3 separate regions of the Homo sapiens genome follow, and regions 1 and 3 are each linked to region 2. Evidence: fine-mapped expression QTL. A gene starts in region 2. Each other region holds a variant in brackets. All regions are shown on one strand. Distances are from middle to middle. Region 1 overlaps SIRT3 (sirtuin 3). Region 2 holds the start of CIMAP1A (ciliary microtubule associated protein 1A). Region 3 overlaps PSMD13 (proteasome 26S subunit, non-ATPase 13).

Region 1 (8,178 bases), 34 kb before region 2:
GCATGGGCTTCCTCCAGTTTGGCTTTGGATTTTTGAGCTCTCTGAATTTGTTGTTTGTGTCCTTTGCACAGTGTCCCTCCCAGGTTGCACCCATGCCTGCCCCTCAGGGTCCCCCACTCCCAGTGAATTTCACACCATGCAGCATGTACTTTAAGCCATACATCTTACGTATGTTCCAGACATTTGGTAAAACGCCGTTTATGTGTTTTTCAGTGACTCACAAACATTTTATTTACGTAAATGAGGAATGTACTCAGGCACCCTTCGTGATACCTTGCCCTCAGCAGGCACTCAACAGCAATAATAACTTTCATTCCTTTTGTGCTTCTCTTAACAGTTCGTGTTTAGTAGGAGCACAGTAGCTGTTTGGGGAACGACCTTAAGTGAATAGATGTCTGAAATGCTGTGTGAAGTGGGGCGCTTAATAGGTGGTGAGATGGTTTTAGAACCAGGGTTTTCCCTCTTTGCTTCTTGACTCCTTAACCAGTTTTCATTAGGAGACCCCTTTGGAGGTTTGCAGTCAGTCAGAGTTGAGTGCCTACTGAGTGTACTGAATTATGAAATGAGCACAGTTCCCATTAACCTGAATTTTTTGCTCCCAAGTAAGTCTTGATTTCTGATTTATGACTGCTTTTTGTTGTACCCCAATAGTCGTCTAAGAAAGGTGATTATTTTGAGAGGCCTGGGGAGACACACATGCTCATTCTCGAGGGTGGCGGTGGTGCAGAGGGCAGAGCCATGCTCGTTCTTGCTATCCTGAGATTGGTTGCTATCTGTTTCCTTTGCTGCTGTGTTTTTTTCTGTCAGTATTAAAGGTGGAAGAAGGTCCATATCTTTTTCTGTGGGTGCTTCAAGTGTTGTTGGAAGTGGAGGCAGCAGTGACAAGGGGAAGCTTTCCCTGCAGGATGTAGCTGAGCTGATTCGGGCCAGAGCCTGCCAGAGGGTGGTGGTCATGGTGGGGGCCGGCATCAGCACACCCAGTGGCATTCCAGACTTCAGGTACTGCCCACAGTCCCACCTGCCTTCTGCGCTCCCCTCCCCTGACTCCTGCCCTCCCCACTGCCCAGTTTATTCCACTTCCCTGTCCTCTTCCAAAGGCCTCAGAGCCTTTCTTCTCTCCCTGCAGATCGCCGGGGAGTGGCCTGTACAGCAACCTCCAGCAGTACGATCTCCCGTACCCCGAGGCCATTTTTGAACTCCCATTCTTCTTTCACAACCCCAAGCCCTTTTTCACTTTGGCCAAGGAGCTGTACCCTGGAAACTACAAGCCCAACGTCACTCACTACTTTCTCCGGCTGCTTCATGACAAGGGGCTGCTTCTGCGGCTCTACACGCAGAACATCGATGGGCTTGAGAGAGGTGAGCCCTCTGTGAGTCGCACACATTCTTTTTCTCCCACGGAGGCTCGGGTGCCTGTTTCTCCCAGGGAGGCTCGGGTGCCTGTTTCTCACAGGGGATGCTCGGGTGCCTGTTTCTGGGGACGGCCAAAACCTATCGCTTATGCTTCTTCCTTGGGACTTTTTTTGAGCCAACTAGTTAGGGCTTTGTTCCCAAGGAAAATGTCCTCTGGGTGTTTAAAGGCCACTGCTTGTTCTCCTGCATACCTGCAGAGCTGTGTATTTTGGGCAGAAGTTGACATTGTTTTGCCAATCTGGTGTGATGATCTCTTTTTTTCTTCTCTCTTTTAAGAAGTGTATTATGGAATTTTTTTGAGCACACACAAAGAGAGCAATGTAACGAACCGTCCTGTCCTCATCACCAGCACACAGCCAGTTCTTCCTGCGTCCTCACCACCTTCTTCCAAATCCCCAGATTATTTTGAAGCAAATCTCTCACATCATGAATTTAATCTAGAAATAATCTATAAACACATGAATGGATAGCTCTAGAGAATACTTTAAAAACAACTCCGGCCGGGTGCCGGATTACAGGTGTGGGATCACACCTGTAATCCCAGCATTTTGGGAGGCCGAGGCAGGTAGATCACCTGAGGTCGGGAGTTCGAGACCAGCCTGGCCAACGTGGCAAAACCCCGTCTCTACTAAAAATACAAAAAATTAGCCAGGCGTGGTGGTGTGTGCCTGTAATCCCAGGTACTCGGGAGGCTGAGACAGGAGAATCTCTTGAACCCAGCAGGCGGAGGTTGCAGTGAGCCGAGATCGTGCCACTTCACTCCAGCCTGGGCGACAGAGGGAGATTCTGTCTCAAAAAAATAAATAAAAATAAAAATAATTAAAAAATAAAAACAACTCTGATAGTGATTCACACTGAAGAATCACTAGTAATTCCTTAATATGGTCACACTTAGTCTGTGGTGATTTCTTGACCGTATCCATATGGTGCCCAAACCAGCGATTCACAGGTTGTGCCAACTTCTGGCCGTGCACCTAACGGAAGCACTTGGTGGGGCCTTTTCCTTACGTGCAGTGATGCAGACAGGTGCTGGGACAGTCAGCTCTCCGGGAGCCAGGCTCCCGGAGAGACTGCTGATGTGTTGTCAGTTAAAAAGAGGTGGCACCTTGGCTCCAGGAATGTGTTTCCTTGCCAGAAGGATCCCCTGACTTGGAACCACAGAGGCAGCAGCGGATGCCCCATGTTGGTGGGCTCTTCTCCCAGAGGTGCAGCAGGGCAGGCCTTGTGGGAAGGTGGGAGCTCCTGGCTGTGAGATTCAGCACTGCTGAGTTAGGGCAGCGACAGGGACTTGGGAAGCCTCCTGCAGCTGGGACCCTGGCTGTGCCACCGCAGCCTTTCAGAACCAGTTAATACTAACACAACTTTCATAAGAAGTCACTTTTTGTCTGTTTCTACCAAGCAATTCTTTTGGAATTTATGATATTTATATCCTCATTTTAACTTGGTATCTGTAGAATAGAAGATATGTTCCTGGATATTAGATATAAATTTTTGAGACAGGGTCTTGGCTCTGTTGCCCAGGCTAGAGTGCAGTGGCATGATCATAGCTCACTATAGCCTGAACTCTTGGGCCGAAGTGATCCTTTTGCCTCAGCCTCTGGAATAGCTGGGACTACGGGCATGCACTACCATGCCTGGCTAATTAAAAAAATTTTTTAAGACAAGTCTCACTATGTTGCTGAGGCTGGTCTCAAACTCCTGGCCTCAAGTGATCCTCCTGCCTTGGCCTTCCAAAGCACTGGGATTACAGGCATGAGCCACTGCACCCAGCCTGGTATTAGGTGTAATTTTTTTTTTTTTTTTT[G/TG]AGACAGAATCTCGCTCTCTTACCCAAACTGGAGTGCGGTGGCACGACCTCAGCTCACTGCAACTTCCACCTCCCGGGTTCAAGCGATTCTCCTGTCTCAGCCTCCCCGAGTAGCTGGCACTACAGGTGCCTGCCACCACATCTGGCTAATTTTTGTATTTTTAGTAGAGGTACGGTTTCACCATGATGGCCAGGCCGGTCTTGAACTCCTAGCCTCAAATGATCTGCCCACCTCGGCCTCCCAAAGTGCTGGGATTACAGGTGTGGGCCACTGTGCCCGGCTGGATATAATTTTATTTGAGCTTTTATCAAATGGTTTTTCGTACTGAGTTTTGACAGGCTTTGTTTTAACCGTGATTTGGCTCCAGCTAGGTGCCCCTTTGCTCCCCTGCCTTATTCTGGTTGATGGCGCATGTAGGTGATACGGGCATGAAAACCAGGCTTGAGGACATCACAACCCCAAGGGGCTGTGCCTCCTTCCAGGAGTCCTGCCAAGCCCAGAAGTTGTGCTCTTGGCCTTGCGTGCTCATCTCGGAGGCGGCAGCAACACTTCGCTTTGGCTTGAATTTCAGTGTCGGGCATCCCTGCCTCAAAGCTGGTTGAAGCTCATGGAACCTTTGCCTCTGCCACCTGCACAGTCTGCCAAAGACCCTTCCCAGGGGAGGACATTCGGGTGAGTTATCCTGCTGTTGGTTGTCCTTCTGCAGTTTGCTGTTGGGGTGATCTGGAAAAGTGGTATTTTATAAGCATTGTCTCGAAAGGACAGTTGAACAATAATAGTGTGAAACATTTTATTTGTAAATTAGAAAATCAATACATGCTTGTAAAAAAATTTAAGACAATATAGAAATATGTAGGGAAAATGAATCTCCCTTCAGCCAATTCCAGCTGCCCACTTTTTTTTTTTTTTTTTGAGATTGAGTCTCACTCTGTCGCCCAGGCTGGAGTGCAGTGGGCGATCTCGGCTCACTGCAACCTCCGTCTCCCGGATTCAAGGAATTCTTCTGCCTCAGCCTCCTAAGTAGCTGGGATTACAGGCGTGAGCCACCACGCCCGGCAATCAGATGGCCTTTTGTGCCGAGCTTATTTCCTGAAAATGTTTCTCGCTCCTTCGCCTTGTAGCTTGTGTTAGTATTTCATCCTGTTTCATGGCTAAATGTTCCACTGATGTATGCACCACAGTTGGTTTGTTTGTACATGGATGGGTGTTTGGGTTGTCCCACCTTTCTGCTCTTGTGTATAGTTCTGCTGTGGAGCATATGCAAGTATTCGTTTGAGAGTCCTTGTTTTTTATTCTTTTGAGTATGATACCTACAAGTATTGCTGGGTAACTCCACGTTTAGCTATATTTATTTATTTATTTTTTGAGACACAGTCTTACACTGTCACCCAGGCTGGAGTGCAATGGCGCGATTTCGGCTCAATACAACCTCTGCCTCCCGGGTTCAAGCGATTCTCCTGCCTCAGCCTCCTGAGAAGCTGGGATTACAGGTGCCTGCCACCATGCCCAGCTAATGTTTTTTGTATTTCTAGTAGAGATGGGGTTTCACCATGTTGGCCAGGCTGCTCTTGCATTCCTGACCTCAGGTGGTTCACCCGCCTCGGCCTCCCAAAGTGCTAAGATTACAGGCGTGAGCCACCATGCCCTGCCCATGTTTAACTTTTTTGTTTGTTTGTTTTGAGACGGAGTCTAGCTCTTATCACCAGGCTGGAGTGCAGTGGCGCAATCTCGGCTCACTGTACCATCCGCCTCCTGGGTTCAAGCGATTCTCCTGCCTCAGCTTCCTGAGTAGCTGGGACTACAGGCACACACCACCACGCCCGGCTAATTTTTGTATTTAGTAGAGTAGTTTCACCATGTTGGCCAGGATGTCTCGATCTCTTGACCTCGTGATCCGCCTGCCTCTTTCTCCCAAAGTGTGGGATTACAGGCGAGAGCCACTGCGCCCGGCCCGTTTTAACTTTTTGAGGAACGAATATACTGTTATCTGCAGAAGCTGGACCATTTTACATTCCACCAACAGTGGGCAAGGGTTTCATCTTTTCCACATCCCAACACTTACTTTCCATTTTTTAATTACAGCTATCCCAGTGGGTGGGAGGTGGTAACCCACTGTAGCACTGATTGGCATTTTCCTAATGATTCATGATATCAAACATCTTTCCATGTGCTTTTTGGCCATTTGTATATCTTTGGAGATTGAAGTCCTTTGCGCATTGTTTAATTGTGTTGTCTTTTTTATTGTTAAGAGAGTCCTTTATATATTCTGGAAGCTAGATCCTTATCAGAGACATGATTTGCAAATATTTTCTGTCATTCTGTAGGTTGTCTTTTTTACTTTGTTGATGTCTTTTGATGCATAGAAGTTTTGATTTTGATGAAATCTAGTTTGTCTATTTATTTTCTCACTCTTTTGGAATCATATCTGAGAAATGGTATTGTTTTACTCCTGTTTTCTTATAAGAGTTTTATAGTTTAAAGCTTTTACATTTAGTTCTTTGATCCATTTTGAGTTAATTTTTGTGTGCGCTGTAAGGTAGGGATCCAGCTTCATTTTCTTTTATGTGGATATGTAATTGTTCCAGCACCATTTGTTTAAAAAAACTGTGGTCTTGGCATTGTTGTTGAAAATCAGTTGGCCATAGGTGTATGGGTTATTTCTAGAGTCTCAATTCTATTCCATTGTTATCTGTATATCCTTGTGCCTGCACTATAATGTTTTGGTTACTGTAGCTTTGTAGTAAGTTTTGAAATTAGGAAGTGTGAGTCCAGCACATAGTAGAAACTTGATATATACGTATTATTGTTTTGGTCAACTCATTCATTGAATGACCAATTTATTCAACAAATAGTTTAGTCTCCTCAGTGCCAGGCCCTTTGCTGGGTTCTGTGGATGTGAATAGAAATTAAAATAAGGTGGAGTCATCCAACAGTTACAACTGGGTGCCATACGAATTTTACTATAAATATGTACTGGACACTACACTGACTCAGCTGTAGGAACAGAGTAGGCTGGGAAGCACCTTTGAGATGAGGCCGTCTGGATGTAAGAGTCTGTTTCTGGCAGCAGAGACCTGGAGTGTGGGAGGCCTGCTTGCTCTGTTAGGGTTTGAACTGTATCCTGACGATCATGGGAGGCATTGGAGGATTTTTAGGCAGGAAAATGATGTGAAGGGATTTGCATTTAAAAGAGATTATTTGGGACTGGGCACAGTGGCTCACGCCTGTAATTCCAGCACTTTGGGAGGCCTAGACAGGCGGGTCACCTGAGGTGGGAAGCTTGAGAGCAGCCTGCCAAAATGGTGAAATCCCATCTCTACTAAAAATACAAAAATTAGCCAGGTGTGGTGGTGCACCTGTAATCCCAGCTACTCAGGAGGCTGAGGCAGAAGAATTGCTTGAACCTGGGAGGGGAGGTTGCTGTGAGCTGAGATCGCACCACTGCACTCCAGCCTGGGTGACAGAGTGAGACTCCATCTCAAAACAAAATAAATAAATAAATAAGAGAATAAAATAGATAATTTGGGCAACAGGTTGATGTTAATTCCCCACCTTTGTTCTTCTCCTTCAGTACTGTGTTGGCTGGTCTGAATCTTTTGGCTTTTCATATAAATTTCTGAAACTGTTGCTATCTGTTCTCTGCCTGTTTTATTTTTGTTGTTGTTGTTTGGATTTTTTGTTTTTTTGAGATAGAGTCTTGCTCTGTTGCCCAGGCTGGAGTGCAGTGGTATGATCTCAGCTCATTGCAACCTCCCCCTCTCAGGTTCAAGCGATTCTCTTGCCTCATCCTCCTGAGTAGCTGGGATTGCAGGCATGCGCCACCATGCCCAGCTAATTTTTGTATTTTTAGTAGAGATGGGGTTTCACTATGTTGGTGAGGCTGGTGTCGAACTCCTGACCTCATGATCCACCCGCCTCGGCCTCCCAAAGTGCTGGGATGACAGGCATGAGCCACCGTGTCTGGCCTCTCTGCCTGTTTTTTAAGACTTTTGTCTTTGGAGTTTTGCGGTTTCTCCACTGTGGTTTTCCATATGAATTTTCTTTTATTTCTTCTGCTTAAAATTTGTAGGCCAGTTGGTCATGGTGGCTCACGCCCGTAATCCCAGTACTTTGGGAGGCCGGGTGGGTGGATCGCCTGAGGTCAGGAGTTTGAGACCAGCCTGACCAACATGGAGAAACCCCATATCTACTAAAAATACAAAATTAGCCGGGCGTGATGGTGCATGCCTATAATCTCAGATACTCGGGAGGCTGAGGCAGGCGAATTGCTTGAACCAGGGAGGCGGAGGTTGCGGTGAGCTGAGATTAGGCCATTGCACTCCAGCCTGGGAAACAAGAGCGAAACTCCATCTCAAAAAAAAAAAAATAATAATAATAATTGTAGGCCTTCCTTAAGAAAAATAAAATAAAATTCTAGGCTGGGCGCGGTGGCTCCTGCCTGTAATCCCAGTACTTTGGGAAGCTGAGGCGGGTGGATCACCTGAGTTAGGAGTTTGAGACCAGCCTGGCCAACATGGTGAAACCCCGTCTCTACTAAAAATACAAAGATGAGCCATTTGTGGTGGCACCCATCTGTAATCCCAGCTACTCGGGAGGCTGAGGCAGGAGAATTGCTGGAACCCAGGAGGCAGAAGTTGTAGTGAACCGAGATCATGCCACTGCACTCCAGCCTGGGTGACAGAGCGAGATGCCATCTCAAAAAAATAAAATATAAAATAAAATTCTAAGCCCTGCAACCAACTGAATGGAGCCCTCCCCTTGGTCAAGGGAACCCCAGAGAAACCTTGGAAGCTTGAGTTCCTGGCCGTAGCAGGAGAGGAGGTCAGACGCGCCTCACTGTACCCCTCCCTCCCCAGCCACCATTAGGCTTCTTCACTAAGGGCTAAACAGAAACCAGCCCTTTTCAAAGACTCTACACTGCTAATGTGGATTACTGGTTTATCTTCCCAGATACAGATTA
Region 2 (8,178 bases):
GCCTGGTGGCATCACTTCTGCCATACCTCATTACTCAGGACACCCACAGGCTATAGTCCAGATTCAAGGGAAGGGACCCAGCATTGCTCAGAGGTGATGAGCACAGGTGTGGCCATCTTTGGGTTCAAGGCAGAAAGCATCAGGAGGGACAGTGTGGAGCAGGGTGTCTGAGGTACTCAGGCCCTACCATCTCTCCCCACACAGACCCTGGGCCCTCCCATCTCACCAAGCTGACCCTGGGCCCTAGAAGGCAGGATGGGACCCCTTGTGGGCAAGTGCTGACAGCCTACGGGGGCTCCTTTCTGGAAATGCTTGATCCTTCCACCAAGACAAACCCTTATTAATGCAATCTGATTTATTAATAATTTGGGCACAGCAGAAAACAAGATTAAAAAATGGTAAAATAGCATAGAAAAAAAGTAACTGATTACAATTGCCCAAACAAGCGTGCTCTGCCCTGCAGGGCCAGGCTGGCCCAGCCCAGCTGGTGAAGACAGCCTCGAGCTCTGTGGCCCGGCGGATCTTGTGTAGATGCCGGGTGTGATGGGGCACAGCAGGGCTGGCGTTATTCCACATCAACCAGCAGGGGAGTCATGTAATCAGAGTGTTTGATGCCGAAGGTGACAACTGGGGCGCAGGGCTTGGTCAGGGTCACCTGGGAGAGGAGGGGCTATGATAGGAACCAGCACCCCTGCCCCCACCTGCAGGTCTCTGCCCTGGCTGGGGCTGGGCTGCTGTCCTTCCTGAACCTGGGGCCAAGGTGGCCAGAAGCTATGCTCCCAGGTTTGAACACAGAGCACTCAGCAGTAGTAGCTGTCACAGTGTCTAGGGAAAAGGGCAGGGTCTCTGCTTCCATGTCCCTGAAGGGTTACCTGTGGGCCTAGTGCTGGAAATGTACAGGGTCCTCAGGGTGCAGGTGCCTCCCATCCCCACCCCACCCCTCCACCCCTTCTTGGCTGTGTCCTTCCATAGCCTGACCCTGTTTCCCCTCGTCTGTGTCCCAGCCCCCCTCCCTGCTCTTTCCTACACATCCCTCTGGGCCAGGACCCTGCCCCACCCTGACCCCTCTGAGCTGTGCTCTTCCTGGACCTTCTCAGGGCTGTGGGCGCCTGGTCCTGGCTTGAGGGTCTTGTCCCCTGGGGGCTCCACACGGGCAGCCATGGTGTACTGCGGAGCCTTGAACTTGGTCACCCGCACATCAGTTTGGCGGTAGGCTGCGGGACCTGGGGTCTGAGAGGTAAAGGAGGCTCAGACCAACTCGGCCTACCCAGGGCGTGTGGCCCTAGAGGACAGGGAGCAAACTCAGGCTCTGAGTCAACAGGGTCAGCTACAAGTTGGTGCCCGTGCATCAAGGTCCCCTTCTGTCTTCTGTCACACTGTGGAGATCACACCCCACTGCTTGTGGGGTACCTCATGTGGGGGTCACTTCCTCCATTTCAGCCTCACGCTGGCAATGGCATCCCCAGTGTGTGCCAGTCCTGGGAACATCGCTGAGCGTGTGTGAGAGAGGCTGTTGCTGCCCTGTTGGACCTGAGGGCCTGGGGCTGGCAAAATCAACATGGACGAGGGCTGTTGGGTGCCATGATGCTGCTTCCCCATCTCAGGCCCCTCAAGCTCTCAGGCATGTGCCACCCAGGGGCTTTGCACTGGCTGTTTCTGAAACCAGGACCCTCCTCCCCCAAATAGCTCATGGTTTATTTTTTCCTCCTCCTCTTCTTTCCATGCTACCCTATCTAAGATTGCCTCTCTCTCTCCAGACAGTGCTTCCTAAACCCCATCTCTTGTCCTCAGCACGGTCCATGCTGGGGCCAGGGCGTCTCCCTTCTGGCCTGTTGCCTGCCCCTCCTCACCACTGCAGTGTAACCCCAGCACGTGGCAGGTGCCCAGAGGGTGAAGGGCTGAGGGGGCTGAGGGGCATTGGCAAGGCAGGGCCGAACTGGTGGGTCCTGGGTTCCGGGGGAGGGTTCAGATGGTTGGGGGTGATTCTCTGTTCTCAGTTGGGGTGGCCCTTGCCTTGTGTAGGTCGTCGCTGAAGCCGCCCAGCTTGCTGCGGCCCTTGATGGAAAAGGAGGGCTGGGAGGCCTTGCCGACGGTATTGGGCCCCATTACCATGGGCAGCATGTACGCAGCGGGGCCTGCAGGGTGGACGTGGAGCCTCAGGCCGGAACAGGGCCCACTGCTCCTTCCCTGGGGCTCTCCCCCAACTCTGGAGATCAGCCGTCGGGCTGCCCCATGTCACACACCCCACCCAGGATCCCCAGGTCCATTTGGCTGAGGATGGTTGGGGCTGCTGCGGACCTGGGGTGCTGTCCACTCGGAATGCCTTTGTCCGGGCAGAGATGGAGTGGCTGGGTGCTGAGTCGAACACGTACTTGGTGGATTTCTCTGGAAAGTAGTCACCTGGACAAGGAGCCAAGGGGGCTGCTGGGACAAGCAGGTGGGTATGCAGCCCAGTTTGGGGGCTCAAGGAGGACTCCCCAACATTCTAGGCGTGGGGCCTCTGGGCTCCAACACAGGTGGTGACCAAGTCGGGTCAGGGGGTGTCCAGGATGGAAATGCTGACTTCAGGGCTGGTGAGACAAAGGCTATTTTTGAGCAGGGAGAGTGGGGTCTGACGTCGGCCTGGCAGAGAAAGGTCCAGGTCGGAGCTGGACTCTTGGGCCAGAGTCTTCTCTGCCCAGGCACGATGGTGACCCCTCAAGAGAGAAAGATGGGACGGGAGGGGCCAGGATGGCTGAGCTCTCCCACACCCTTGCTGACATGAGGTTAGGGGCACCCAGCAGGGAGGGGCAGGCCTGAGGCTGCGCAGGGCAGGAGCCTGAGACAGGGTCACTAACCTGGACCAGGAGTCAGCATGGTCTTGGTTTGGTAGCGCCCCAGGATGGAGTAGGCAGGGCCAAGGTCCTTGCCAGTCCTCAGTATCTTGGGGTTTACATTGTAACGGGGCCCTGGGGAGCAGTTCTCTGCCAGGAGCATGGGGGCCCCACGGAAGCTGTAGGCCGGTGCACGCAGCTTGGTGGGCGTGTGCTTCATGAAGCCTGTGGACGCAATGGGCCCTGAGCAGCCCGGAGCCTGACCTGCCCTTCTCCCCGCTGGGAGTCAGGGATTGAGCCCCAGGCCCTTCCCGGGACCCCCACCTGCCCGCCTGGCTCCTGACCCTCTCCCACAGTCTCTCAGGCTCTTACCTGTTGTTGGTGGAATCAGGTACTTGGGTCCAGGGCTGCTGTAGAGGGCCATGATGGGTCCCCGGGGGCGATGGGGCCTCCAGGTACCCATCCATACCTCCTCCGTCATGGCCAGCTCTGTCCGTAAGTGAGAGGGTTACCAGGTGCTGGGAGGCCCGGCCCTGTCCCATGCCGGCCCCTGATGTCCCCGACCCTGCTCTTGCTGACACTGAAGGGTAAGACCTGCGGAACCTGCTGCAGCATCAGTGGGGATCTCCAGCTGGGAGCCAGGAGTCAGGGACAGTAGGAGCTTTCTGCATGGGTCTGTGAGCTCCTCACCAGCTTAACTGTAACCCAGAGTTGCTGTCCATGCTGGCCCTTAACTCACCACTGTTCTCGGCTCTAAGGGAGCCCTGGGCCGGTTTCTCCTACTTGGAGTGGTCAAAGATGGGGAACTTCTTGATTGAGGCTGAGCTGAGGGGCAGGGAGGGGGCCGCCTGGGAGGGAACTATAACTTCTTCAGTGCAGGGACAGCACTCAGAGCAGCCTAGAGACCCATCCTCATCAGAGACTGTCCTTTCCCCCCTGGCCTTGGTGCCAGGGAGTTCCCGCAAAAGGAGCATGGAGAGAAAGGCCTTCCTCTCTCCTCATGGGCTTACAGAATTGGGGAGAGGTCCCCCACTCTAAACTCTAGAATGTGGCTCTGTGGGATGACAGGTTCTAGATTCTGTCTATGTGACCAAGACAATGGCTTCTGCCTTTGATCCCCTCACCAGATCTCACCACCAGGTCCCCCCAACAGGACACCCCTATAAGTCCCCCTGACCATGTTCCCCTCACCATGTTCCCCTCACCAGGTCCTCCTCACCAGGTCCCCTCACCAAGGCTCCCCACCCATGTCCTCCTCACCAGGTCCCCTCACCAGGTCCCCTCACCAAGGTCCCCCCCATGTCCCCTCACCAGGTCCCCTCACCAAGGTCCCCCCCATGTCCCCTCACCAGGTCCCCTCACCAAGGTCCCCCCCATGTCCCCTCACCAGGTCCCCTCACCAAGGTCCCCCCCATGTCCCCTCACCAGGTCCTCCTCACCAAGGTCCCCCCCATGTCCCCTCACCAGGTCCCCTCACCAAGGTCCCCCCCATGTCCTCCTCACCAGGTCCCCTCACCAAGGTCCCCCTCATGTCCCCTCACCAGGTCCCCTCACCAAGGTCCCCCCCATGTCCCCTCACCAGGTCCTCCTCACCAAGGTCCCCCCCATGTCCCCTCACCAGGTCCCCTCACCAAGGTCCCCCCCTATGTCCCCTCACCAGGTCCCCTCACCAGGTCCCCTCACCAAGGTCCCCCCCATGTCCCCTCACCAGGTCCCCTCACCAAGGTCCCCCCCATGTCCTCCTCACCAGGTCCCCTCACCAAGGTCCCCCCCATGTCCCCTCACCAGGTCCGCTCACCAAGGTCCCCCTATGTCCCCTCACCAGGTCCCCTCACCAAGGTCCCCCCCATGTCCCCTCACCAGGTCCTCCTCACCAGGTTTCCCTAAGTTCCCTCACCAGACCACCCCTCACCAGGCCCCCTCACCATGTTTCTTTCACCAGGTCCCCTCAACCAGGCACCCACCCATGAAGTCCCCCTCACTGGGTCCCCTCACCAGGTCCCCTGTAACCAAGTCCTCCAGGGCCCCCTCCCTAGGGCTCCCTCAGCCAAATGGAAATCCAGGCAGATACCATGTAGGCAGGTGGGACAGAGCACAGAGCCGACAGCACCGCATGGCCCCCTTGCCAGGCTCAGACAGGACAGAGGTGTGGAGAGGAGGGCCGGGGCAGTGAAGTGTCAGGGCTCAGCACCCAGGGTGGCCAAGGATGGGGCGGTTCCACTCAGCTGTGCCCCCAGAAGAGACCATAGATTGGGCAGCTGAAATGCTGGAAGGTTCTGGCTGTGGGAGAGTCTGGGATCCAGGGTCAGGATCAGGGTCTGTGCTGGTTGTGGTGGGTGTGAGTCAGTGTGGGCGCTGGGGCTGCCCTGGCTGACCTCAGAGGCTGCTCACCTGCGGCTCCCAACCCCCTTGGACATGGGTGTACCTTTTTCTTGGCCTTGTCAGGGGTCCTCTTGGGGCTCGACACCAGCTTTCAGATGCTGAGCACCCCCGCCCTGACCTAGCCCATGGGCGACATGGGGTCTGTGTCCACCCAGTCCTGGACACTTCCTCTTTCTGGGGCTCCCACCTCATACCGCTGCCTCTGCCGCCCGTCTCCCTCCGGACGCCCCCTCCAGACGCCCCCTCCGGACGACCACGCAGTGTTGTCTGGCTCTGTGCTCTGTCCACCTGCCTACGTGGCGTCTGCCTGGATTTCCATTTTGGGTCTTGCCTGTGGTGTGCCTGCTCCTGTGTGGACCCTGTGTGTACCTCTGTGGGGACTTTCACACGTGTGTTCCTTGAGTGGGATCCTCTGTATGTGGGTCTGTGTGTGTGGCTGTGGCCCTGTGTTCCTGATGTCCCCATTTGTGTGTACCTCTGTGGGGACTTTCACACGTGTGTTCCTTGAGTGGGATCCTCTGTATGTGGGTCTGTGTGTGTGGCTGTGGCCCTGTGTTCCTGATGTCCCCATTTGTGTGTCCCTCTGTGGGGGACTTTCGCACGTGTGCTCCTTGAGTAGGATCCTCTGTATGTGGGTCTGTGTGTGTGGCTGTGGCCCTGTGTTCCTGATGTCCCCATTTGTGTGTCCCTCTGTGGGGACTTTCGCACGTGTGCTCCTTGAGTGGGATCCTCTGTATGTGGGTCTGTGTGTGTGGCTGTGGCCCCGAGTGTGTTCCTGATGTCCCCATTTGTGTGCCCCTCTGTGGGGGCAGAGACAGGAGCCTGAGCTGCGGAAGAGGCTTTATTGATTAAACGGTTTGAGGATACATTTCCATGTGGGAGGTGGTAGTGGGCGTTGTGTCCACGGCTGCTTGTGTGGCAGGTCCTATGGCTGAGCCATGTCTGAGGTCCACTTAGGCACCGTCCTGACTGCCCAGCACTTGCACCTGGAAGGCAGACACATGTGGACTAAGAGGGCTGTGCTCAATAAGTGGAGAGCCACAGCTCCATCAGGCAAGCAAGGCCCTCAGTGGGGGGGGGTCTGGCATATTGCTGCCTATCTCCTCCCAGCAGCTGGGAGGTGTGTGTGCACATGTGATGGTGTGCACACATGTATGTGTGTGCATATCCCAGTGTGAGCATGTGGGTGTGAACGTGTTTATACATGTGTGCACGCAGTGTACATTTCATGTCTGCACCTGTGTTTGGATCTCTGTGTATGTTCACATGTGTGCATGGAGGAGTATCCCACAGACTGGGGAGGAGGTCTATGGAGTCTGGGGGCTGCTCGGTGGACAGGAGGTCTGGGGTGTCCACCTGAGCTGGCTGATGCGGGTGCAATGTCTGTGGGTGGTGGATGTCTGTGGGTGGGGTAGGCTGTGTGGGTGCTGTGTTGGGTGGTCTTGGTAAGGCTGCAGATCTTTAGAAAATGGGGTGCCCGCCGCCCTCATACCAGCAGCTTGACCAGCTCCGCCTTGTGCATTGGCTGCAGGCCATCTATACAGGACTTGAGTTCAGTCATTGCTGCCTTGGCATCTTCGTTGACATTGTACTTGCCCAAGGTCCCCTCATAGAGCTCCTCTGGGGTCCCCACCAGTAGTGTTTGCAGGAAGTCCATGAAAAACTCATCGTTGTCCTCCCCTGTGGCCATCCCTGCATCACGAGCGAGATGATGCCAGGACAGGACAGGGTGACTCTGGTGCAACCACAGCCCTGGACCTGCCCCAGGGCTCCAACCTCCATGGTCTCCAGACCTTCCCCTTCAATGCCCACCTCTCCTCCCCAGGGCTTCCTCCACAACACCTCCAACTCCACCTTGCCCGAAGACCCCTCCACATCCCCCTTAATCTTAGCTGCTCCAATTTCCACTCAGCATTCCCTGGGATCACCAGGGAAGGAAAGTTAAGCTCCTGGTGTGGGGGAAATTTCCCCTGATGAGAGGCTATTATGACCAGAGGCTTGAAGGGTCAGGTCAGGCTGGACTGGGCTGGGGTAGGAGACACTGGGCTGGTGTTGGGTCAGCTGGGCTTTGTCCTTGGTTGGGGTGGAGTAGGGTGGGCGCGGGTTCTGCAGGGTCCTTGCCCACTTCTGTGACAGAAGCAGGTGGAGTGTTCACTGCAGAGGCCCGATGCCAGGATTTTACCTTCTCAGGTACCCCCCACTCCCCCCCACCCCTGAATGTTCTGGAAACCCCAGTGGCACAGACTCACGGCAGATGCAGAACAGGGTGAGGGCCACCAGCAGGAGGGCACGGCTCCCCTTCATGCCAGCAGTCTCAGGAGCTGCCTCCAGCCAGAATCCCGGGATTTTATGCCTCACCGGACAGCACCTCTCCTAGAGGGCGGACCGGACCTGCCCATTAGGACCCGGCAGCCAGCTTAGATGAGGTTTGTTCACATCCCTGGCCCCCAGTGGGTGCCAAGCAGCAACAGGCATGGAGTGGCTGTGTGACAGGTGGTTGGCAAGCGGCTTTAGGGTGTGTGAGAGAGAGAACAGGTGTGTTAGGAGGGAACACTGGTGAGAGGCCATGCCAACTGATCGGTGAAGAAGGCAGTGGGTCCTGGCCACCAAGGGCCTCTAGTCATGCCTGCCCTTGAGGCCGAGAGTGGTGGGATCTGGGGTTGGTCCCACGCCTTTCTTTTAAGGTGCGAATCCCTCCTCTTATCAGTGTGCTGTGTGATCTGGGTCTGCATCTGGGGGTCTCCAATCAGGCAGGGGCCCCTTACTACTCAGATGGGGTGGCCGAGTAGGGGAAGGGGGTGCAGGCTGCACGAGTGGACACAGCTGTAGGACTACCTGGGGGCTGTGGATCTATGGGGTGGGGAGAAGCCCAGTGACAGTGCCTAGAAGAGAGAAGGTGGCCTGAGAGGGTCTGAGGAACATAGAGCTGGCCATGTTGGGGCCAGGTCTCAGCAGGAAGTGAGGAATGGGACAGGCTTGAGGT
Region 3 (8,178 bases), 48 kb before region 2:
AAAGATTTAATAATTTGTCCCCATGGGTCTGGAATTTCAGTTTTCAAAACAAGGGTCTCAGCTACAGGGATTTCACGTGCCCTTTATTCTGCAGCAGAGGGGTGGGCGGGGAGGGCTCAGAAGGTGTTGGCGTCATGGTGCTTCCTACAAATACCTGTGGCTTAGGTAACAGTGAGGGACTGGAGAAGGGACAGTGAAGGAGCGAGGAGGAATTAGCCTCATTTTCATGTAAATTAAATGCTGGAGACAAATATAATGTAGAAACTAAAGGTTACACAAATCTTCCCATTTTTTTCTTCAAAACAGGATGAATCCATCTGAGTAATTTCTTTTTTGTTTGGATGAGATGGAGTCTCGCTCTGTCACCCAGGCTGGGGTGCAGTGGTACAATCTTGGCTCACTGCAACCTCCACCTCCCGAGTTCAAGTGATTCTCCTGCCTCAGACTCCTGAGTAACTGGGATTACAGGCACCCACCATCACACCTGGCTAGTTTTTTGTATTTTTAGTAGAGACAGGGTTTCACCATGTTGGCCAGGCTGGTCTCGAACTCCTGACCTCAGGTGATCCACTCACTTCAGCCTTCCAAAGTGCTGGGATTACAGGCGTGAGCCACCGTGCCCAGCCCCACCTTAGTAATTTCTGAGAACTGTCACCTCAAGCAACTCACAGATGCTAAGTTTGGAGAATATGCTCCTGTGTGACATGGATTTAATGGCCTAGGTTACCTGGTAGATCCTTGATGTCAACACAGCCCAAAAACCGCAGAGCATCTTTGTAGTAGGACGCGTGGTTTCCGATTGTTTGATAGTATTTACTGGAGAGATCATAGAAACGACTGTGAACCGATGTCACACCAGGAAGGTTGTTGAGCATTTCTTCAACATCTTCAATTGTTTCCTATACACAGGAAGGAAAATCATCTCTCTTTTTAAGTTAAAAGTTTATTTTATTTTTTTAGAGACAGGGTCTCACTCTGTTGCCTAGGGTGGTCTTGAACTCCTGGCCTCAAGTGATCCTCCCACCTCAGCCTCTGTAGTAGCTGGGATTACAGGTTCAAGCCACTGTGCTTGGCTAAGATTTTTAAAGTAATATATTGTGAGATGAAAAGCATCAACTACCAAGGCAAAGACTGATGAATGTGACCGCGTTAAAATGGAAAACTTAATCCAAAACACAGAAAAAAGTACAAAGACAAGCTACAGACTGGGAAACAATATTTACAACATTTATAACCCACCAGCAATTATGACCAAGGAAATATAAAAACACTTACAAATGAGTCAGGAGACAAGCAACACAGTAGAAAAATGGGCAAAAGACATTAACAGGCAATTGACAAATTTGGGGACACAAACAGAATGGCCAATAAACCACTAGTAATTGTGAAATGCAAATTAAACCCCCAACAAGATATAATTTCACTTCTATTAGATCAGCAAGAGTTAGAGCCTGAAACTATCAGGTGTTGAAGACATGGAGCTTCCAGAGTACTCATATGGTGCTGAGGGAGCATGTATCTGGGAAAGGCAGAGATGCACACAGCTTGTACCTGTAGTCTCTAGGCATACATCTTGGTGAGATTCTGCCCACACACAAGGGACCAGGCACAGAAATACTTATGGCAGTACTGTTTGTGATAGTAAAAAAAACAACCTAAATCTCCCTTTTTTTTTGAGACAGAGTCTCGCTCTGTTGCCCAAGCTGTAGTGCAGTGGTGCGATCTCGGCTCACTGCAACCTCCGCCTTGCAGGCTGAAGCAATTCGCTGCCTCAGCCTCCCGAGTGGCTGGGACTACAGGCGCCCGCCACCATGCCCGGCTAATTTTTGTGGTTTTAGTAGAGACGGGGTTTTACCATCTTGGCTGGGTTGGTCTTGAACTCCTGACCTTGTGATCCACCTGCCTCAGCCTCCCAAAGTGCTGGGATTACAGGTGTGACCATCGCACCTGGCCCTAAATCTCTTCAATAGGAGACTGGATACATATGTTGTGAAACACTTATACAATGAAATACCGTATAGGAGTAACAGCACATTGGTTACACATACCCACATGACTCTGAAACCTAGTATTGAGCCAATGTTAAAACGCTTGAGTTACACACCCCTATTTAATGAAGGACAAGGAAATGCATGGGCATGAGAGGGAGCCTGGCTGGGGGAGAAGTGTGGTCTGAAGGGTACTGGGACCCTGACTGTGCCGTGTGGCTTCATTCCTTCCTAAGCTGGTTGGGGCACATGGATGCCTATTACAGCATTCTGTACTGTGACTTATAGCTTTCAATATGTCTTAAAATATTTGAAAATAAAATGCACTAAGTATGCATATGGGTTAGGACTGACAATAAACAATAAAAAGTATCTTTTCAGGGCAATGAGGACATGAACACTTTAACCCTTACCCCCAATATTTTCTTTAACATTGTGATTAGCAAACACACACACACACAAACACACACACACAAACACACACAAACACACGAACACACATGCAAACACACACACACACACACACACACACACACACACACACACGTTCTGGTTCAACCAGGTGGACCAGCCACATGTCGGTTTCACTGCCACCCACATCCATACCTGTCTCCCAACTGCACCAAAACATAATTGAACATAAGAAAGACATAAAAATAGACAGGATACTTCAACAACATTTAGGAGGCAGAAGGAAGATGGAGAAATAGCACGTGACATGCCAGTGGTGTGTAGGCTGACCTTGGTCAGGGAGAACCAATGTGCTTTGGGCTGACTGAGGCCATGTGGAGTCATTATTAGACGGATGTGCTGTGGTCACACAGGGGAGTGCTCTTTTGTTTAAGGGCAACAGGCATTGTATCAGCAACTTACTCCTAAGTGGTTTTGGAAAAAAGCTACAGACACACACAAAGGCAAAAGCGGTAAAAGGTTAGCAATCGGGGGGGCTGGGCGCAGCGGCTCACGGCTGTAATCCCAGCACTTTGGGAGGCTGAGGCAGAGGGATCACTTGAGGTCAGGAGTTCCAGACCAGCCTGGCCAACATGGCGAAACCCTGTCTCTACTAAAAATACAAAAAAATTAGCCGGGCAGGGAGGCACGCGCCTGTAATTCCAGCTACTCAGGAGGTTGAGGCAGGAGAATTGCTTGAACCCGTGAGGCGGAGGTTGCGGTGGGCCGAGATTGCACCATTGCACTCCAGCCTGGGAAACAGAGCGAGACTCCGTCTTTAAAAAAAAAAAAAAAAAAAGGTTTGCAATGGGAAATTTAGGTTGGGGTATAGTAGTTCTTTGTGTTATTTTTGCAACTTTTCTGTAATGTAAAAATGTTTTAAAATAAACAGTAAAGAAGAAAAATAGGTTATTTTTTTTCCTAGGGTTTTAAATAATTTTAAACCAAAGATAAATCTGTATTATGGTGATCTCACCTTTGTAACCTGTAGGTCCCCGATGTTTAATTTTAGAGCTCCAATTGCTGTTTTACACAGGATCACTGCCTCATCACTACTTTTCACCTAAGACATCAAAAACAAAAACAAGAAACCTCAGAATGTGGGCAGTTGACTAACAAAGGAAGCTAGCTACTTGTACATTAACTTAACCTTGATGACTAGAGGCCTTGTGGTCTCTAAAGGTCTGGACAGTGAGCATGAACACAAGCTGTTAAGTCATACATACTCTAAAAGGTACTAAAAGGTATTGCCCACATGCCACATTTACCTTCTCACGAGTCTTTTCCAGAAAAGTAAGAGCCACATTAGGATCTGGAAAAGAAGGAACAATCAGAAGGACCATCAACAGACTGGTTTCTGCTAACCAAGACACCCTTAGGTAGGGTAATCTTTAGGTTTTGACCATAAAGTATAATAAAAACATAATATCTGATACAGAAAACACAAAAGTTCAGTTAACTTATATTTCAATTTTAACCACCATTTGGATCTGCTCCTTTATAAAACAAAGTGAGACTTACCAGTCATCTGTCTAACTACATGAAGAATGATTTCCACGAGGGACAAAGGGTTCACCCTGAAATAAAAGCCACCAGCCTTTGAGCACCGCCGAGCATCAATGCACTCATTTTCAAAGTGAAAAACGGATGAGAGGCTTTTACCTGTGTTCAAATTCACTGATAAAGTTTTCATAAAGCTGTGAAACCAAAACATGGAGAGAAATTATAGGATGTCTTTTATTCTGCAAAACGAAGACCCCAAACACTATCTTTGGTAAAGAAGCTGCATCAATGCTATCAAGTTGGGAGTGTGCAAGCCACAGTGCCCAGCACACAGTAAGCAATGCATGTTTGCAGAATGATAGGAGACCATATCAGGGCTTACTTACATTCACATAAATGATCAACAGATTACTAAGG[A/G]ATATTAGGTTTCTTCTAGTTTTGGGAATTAGAGTACTGACCTATAAGAACCTCCAGACAGATTCCTATATTCTTTCTTCCAGGTACTGTAAGCTAAATAGACTATCAGATTGAAACGCTCCCTCAGTTCTCTCCCTGTGGCTTCCGGGCTGTTGGTATTTGGACCCTTGTGAAGATGGCCTGCGCTGCCGTGTGGTCCCCAGCCTACCAGGACAGGTTTATTTGTATCTATCCTGCTTATTTAAATAATAAGAAGACCACTGTGGAAGGAAGGTGAATCCCATAAGTAAGGCTGTTGAAAATCCTACAGCCAGAGATTCAAGATCTATGTTCAGGTTTATTTGTATCTGTCCTACTCATTTAAATAATAAGACCATTGTGGAAGGAAGGTGAATCCCCATAAGTAAGACTGTTGAAAATCCTACAGCTAGAGATTCAAGATCTATGTTTAGCAGTTGGACTTAATGCATTTCTTGAGAAAAATAAAATGTTCTCTAGAGAATGGAATCGTGATGTTCAATATAAAAGCAGAATCTGGGCCCAGCTCAAACAGGAAAATGGCAGCCTCTATCTTGTACATTTCCCACCACGTTAAGTCAGTAATGTTGTGTGCAGCATAAATGATACCTAAATTAAAAACAAGGACACAAAAAAACAGGAGGTGGTGACCAAAGTCTTCAACAAGGAGAGGGAAGTAAAAAAAGGGAAAGAAAAAGACGTAACCATCCGGGCGCAGTGGCTCACGCCTGTAATCCCAGCACTTTGGGAGGCAGAGGTGGGTGGATCATGAGGTCAAGAGATTGGAACCATCCTGGTCAACATGGTGAAACCCCGTCTCTACTAAAAATACAAAAATCAGCTGGGCATGGTGGCGCGCGCCTGTAGTCCCAGCTACTTGGGAGGCTGAGGCAGAAGAATCGCTTGAACCAGGGAGGCAGAGGTTGCTGTGAGCTGAGATTGTGCCATTGCATTCCAGCCTAGGCAACAAGAGTGAAACTCCATCTCAAAAAAAAAAGAGAAAAAGAAAAAGACATAATGTAGTATCAGGATCAAGTATGCGGTACTACTGTAAGAGACCTGAATGGAGGCTTCTAATTTGTATCAAAGGAAAACAGAAGCTTTTCGTTTGCATCATTTAACTGAACTGTGAACGCTTGTGCCTCCCATCTTTATCATCGGAGTTGACAGTGAAAAAAATTTATATCAGAAGTTTGCATCTCAATTTTATGGAGTATAAAAGATTTTTTTTGACATTCAACGCAGTTTTTTTGGAAGAAAGAATATCTTAAAATGGACAATGGACTGTACAATAAGTTACTTGAAATCTTATATCTATCTTCTGTGTAAACATGTTTCAGATGAATTTCAATTAGATTTGAAATACACATTTTGTTCACCTATTAAGTTAATGAAATAAAATTTAAAACAAAAAGAGAAATGTTTGCTAATCAAACAGAATGGAGTTCCTTCAGATTTTAATTAAAGCTAATTATGCACCGTTTTCAAATTTCTTAGCCATTCAGCACACTTGAGCACTTCCTCAGACTCCATACTAGATACTACAACATAGAACGTGTAAGACAAATGATGTGTCTTCAAGGAGCTCCTGGTCCACTGAAGACAGTCTTTAAACAAATAAATGACAATACAGTGAGTTTAAGAGCAAAAAGAAAGAAAGAAAAAAAAAGGGGCAGAAGTGCATCAGCCAAAGGGAGAGGCTTCAAAGGTTACTGTAGAAGTGGCAATACTGAGTTTCAAGGAATGAAGGGCGGTTAGAGAGGTGGCCATTTGGTGTGGGAGGGGAAGAAGCTGAGAGAAGAACATTCCAGACAGTAACAAACATGTGCAAAAGCACTGAAGAAAAAAATACATTATGTTTCAGGGGCATTTCTGAGGGACACAGACTAGGAAGCACTGAAGATTGGTCTCTGTCCAGAGTGCAAGGCCGAACCAGAGGACACACATGATCATTTCTATTTTAGAAACACGCCTGGGGCAGAGAGGACAGCAGGTGAAAGAGACTGAGAGAGAACAGTCAGAGGCTAGTACTGGCCAAGACAGGAGAGTGAGGGAGCAACCGTAATGAGGATGGATGAATAATTTGAGAGAGATTTAGGGGTAACGAACCAGACTCACTCAGATGTGGGCCGGTCACAGAGAAGGAGAGCTGACAATAACCCCTGAGTTAGGGGTAACTGGGCCAAGAGCGCCTAGTGTGGGCACAGTAGGAGAGGGAACCTCCAAATGACCTTAACTTTGGATTAGGAGAGCCTGTAGTTCCTCTGGGATATGAAGGTAGAAGGATGAAAACACCCCTGTAGCAATTACATATTCCAATCAGGCACACAAGAAACAGTCAACTAAATAAAATGGCATTTTTGTCCCGGTGCTGTGGCTCACGTCTGTTATGTAGCACTTTGGGAGGCCGAGGCTGGTGGATCACGTGAGGACAGGAGTTCAAGACCAGCCTGGCCAACATGGTGAAATGCCATCTCTACTAAAACTACAAAAATTAGCCAGGTGTGGTGGCACACGCTTGTAATCCCAGCTACTTGGGAGGCTGAGGCATGAGAATGGCTTGAACTGGGGAGACGGAGGTTGCAGCGAGCTGAGATCTGCCATTGCACTCCAGCCTGGGCGACAGTGCGAGACTCTGTCCCTTTGCCCACCCAAAATAAATAAAATGGTGGCCAGGTGGTGGTTCACACCTGTAATCCCAGCACTTTGGGAGGCCAAGGCGGGTGGATCGCCTGAGGTTAGGAGTTTGAGACCAGCCTGGTCAACATGATGAAACCCTGTCTCTACTAAAAATACAAAAATTATCCAGGCGTGGTGGCGGGTGCCTGTAATCCCAGCTACTCTGGAGGCTGTGGCAGGAGAATCACTGGAACCCGGGAGGAGGAGGATGTAGTGAGCTGAGACTGTGCCATTGCACTCCAGCCTGGGTGATAAGAATGAAACTCCGTCTCAAAAAATAATAATAATAAATAAATAAAATGGCATTTTTATTACAAAAGACTATTTCAAAGATATCTTCCTTATTAGAAGGAAATGTTTGAACTTTCCTGACATGTATTAATCTAAAAAATTACCTTAAAAAAGAAGCCCACTAAGTCCAGAAAGTCAAAATTACTTCTGGTGACTATAAATTCAAAAATACTATCCATTTTACACTTATGCTAGCTGGATCCCAACAAATTTTAAAGGTTTATTCTGTCTATGGGAAAAGTAAACTCAGATCTGCCAACCTAAATAAACATCACCTTACCATGAGGTTGAGGAAATATTTTGTCATGTGTAGAAAAGTGATTTAAAGATAAGAAACCAAAGGACAGAGATAAACAATTATGAATCATCTATCGTGATGATTTAGAACCTTAGGGAACAAGTATTAAGACAGGTCTCAGGCCAGGCACAGTGGCTCCTGCCTATAATCCCAGCACTCTGGGAGGCCAAGGCAGGCAGATCACCTGAGGTCAGGAGTCTGAGACCAGCCTGGCCAACACTGGTGAAACCCCATCTCTACTAAGAAATACAAAAATCAGCTGGCTGTGGTGGTGGGCACCTGTAATCCCAGCTACTTGGGACGCTGAGGCAGAAGAATCGCTTGAACTCGGGAGGTGGAAGTTGCAGTGAGCCAAGATCGCACCATTGCACTCCAGCCCGGGCAACAAGAGCGAAACTCCGTCAAAAAAAAAAAAAAAAAAAAAAAAAAAGCAGGTCTCATTTATCATTTTCCCACATAATCCAGAAGACTGAATGTTCAGCAAAATCTCCAGGCTTACAGATGATTGTAAGTTCCTCTGAATAGTAAAATGTC

Evidence for each region.
Region 1: its variant is fine-mapped to the expression of CIMAP1A in whole blood (INTERVAL, PIP above 0.99).
Region 3: its variant is fine-mapped to the expression of CIMAP1A in whole blood (INTERVAL, PIP above 0.99).

The regions. Positions count from the first base shown.
Region 1 is chr11:226,164-234,341 of GRCh38, reverse strand. SIRT3 (sirtuin 3) reads left to right here. Exons shown (of 7, transcript NM_012239.6): 2 at 808-999; 3 at 1,127-1,359; 4 at 3,790-3,890. Among named protein-coding and RNA genes, the nearest start is that of SIRT3, 6.1 kb to the left of the region's middle. The variant G/TG (reference allele first, on the strand shown) is at 3,218.
Region 2 is chr11:192,421-200,598 of GRCh38, reverse strand. It overlaps CIMAP1A (ciliary microtubule associated protein 1A), which reads right to left and starts at 3,838. Exons shown (of 7, transcript NM_053280.5): 1 at 3,553-3,838; 2 at 3,186-3,302; 3 at 2,838-3,038; 4 at 2,299-2,400; 5 at 2,014-2,135; 6 at 1,090-1,230; 7 at 341-655. The coding sequence starts at 3,294. The coding sequence ends at 566. It overlaps SCGB1C1 (secretoglobin family 1C member 1), which reads right to left and starts at 7,521. Exons shown (of 3, transcript NM_145651.3): 1 at 7,445-7,521; 2 at 6,688-6,887; 3 at 6,024-6,181. The coding sequence starts at 7,499. The coding sequence ends at 6,149.
Region 3 is chr11:239,998-248,175 of GRCh38, reverse strand. PSMD13 (proteasome 26S subunit, non-ATPase 13) reads right to left here. Exons shown (of 13, transcript NM_002817.4): 3 at 4,101-4,135; 4 at 3,960-4,015; 5 at 3,707-3,750; 6 at 3,415-3,501; 7 at 728-899. It also overlaps the pseudogene LOC100420679. Among named protein-coding and RNA genes, the nearest start is that of PSMD13, 7.1 kb to the right of the region's middle. The variant A/G (reference allele first, on the strand shown) is at 4,359.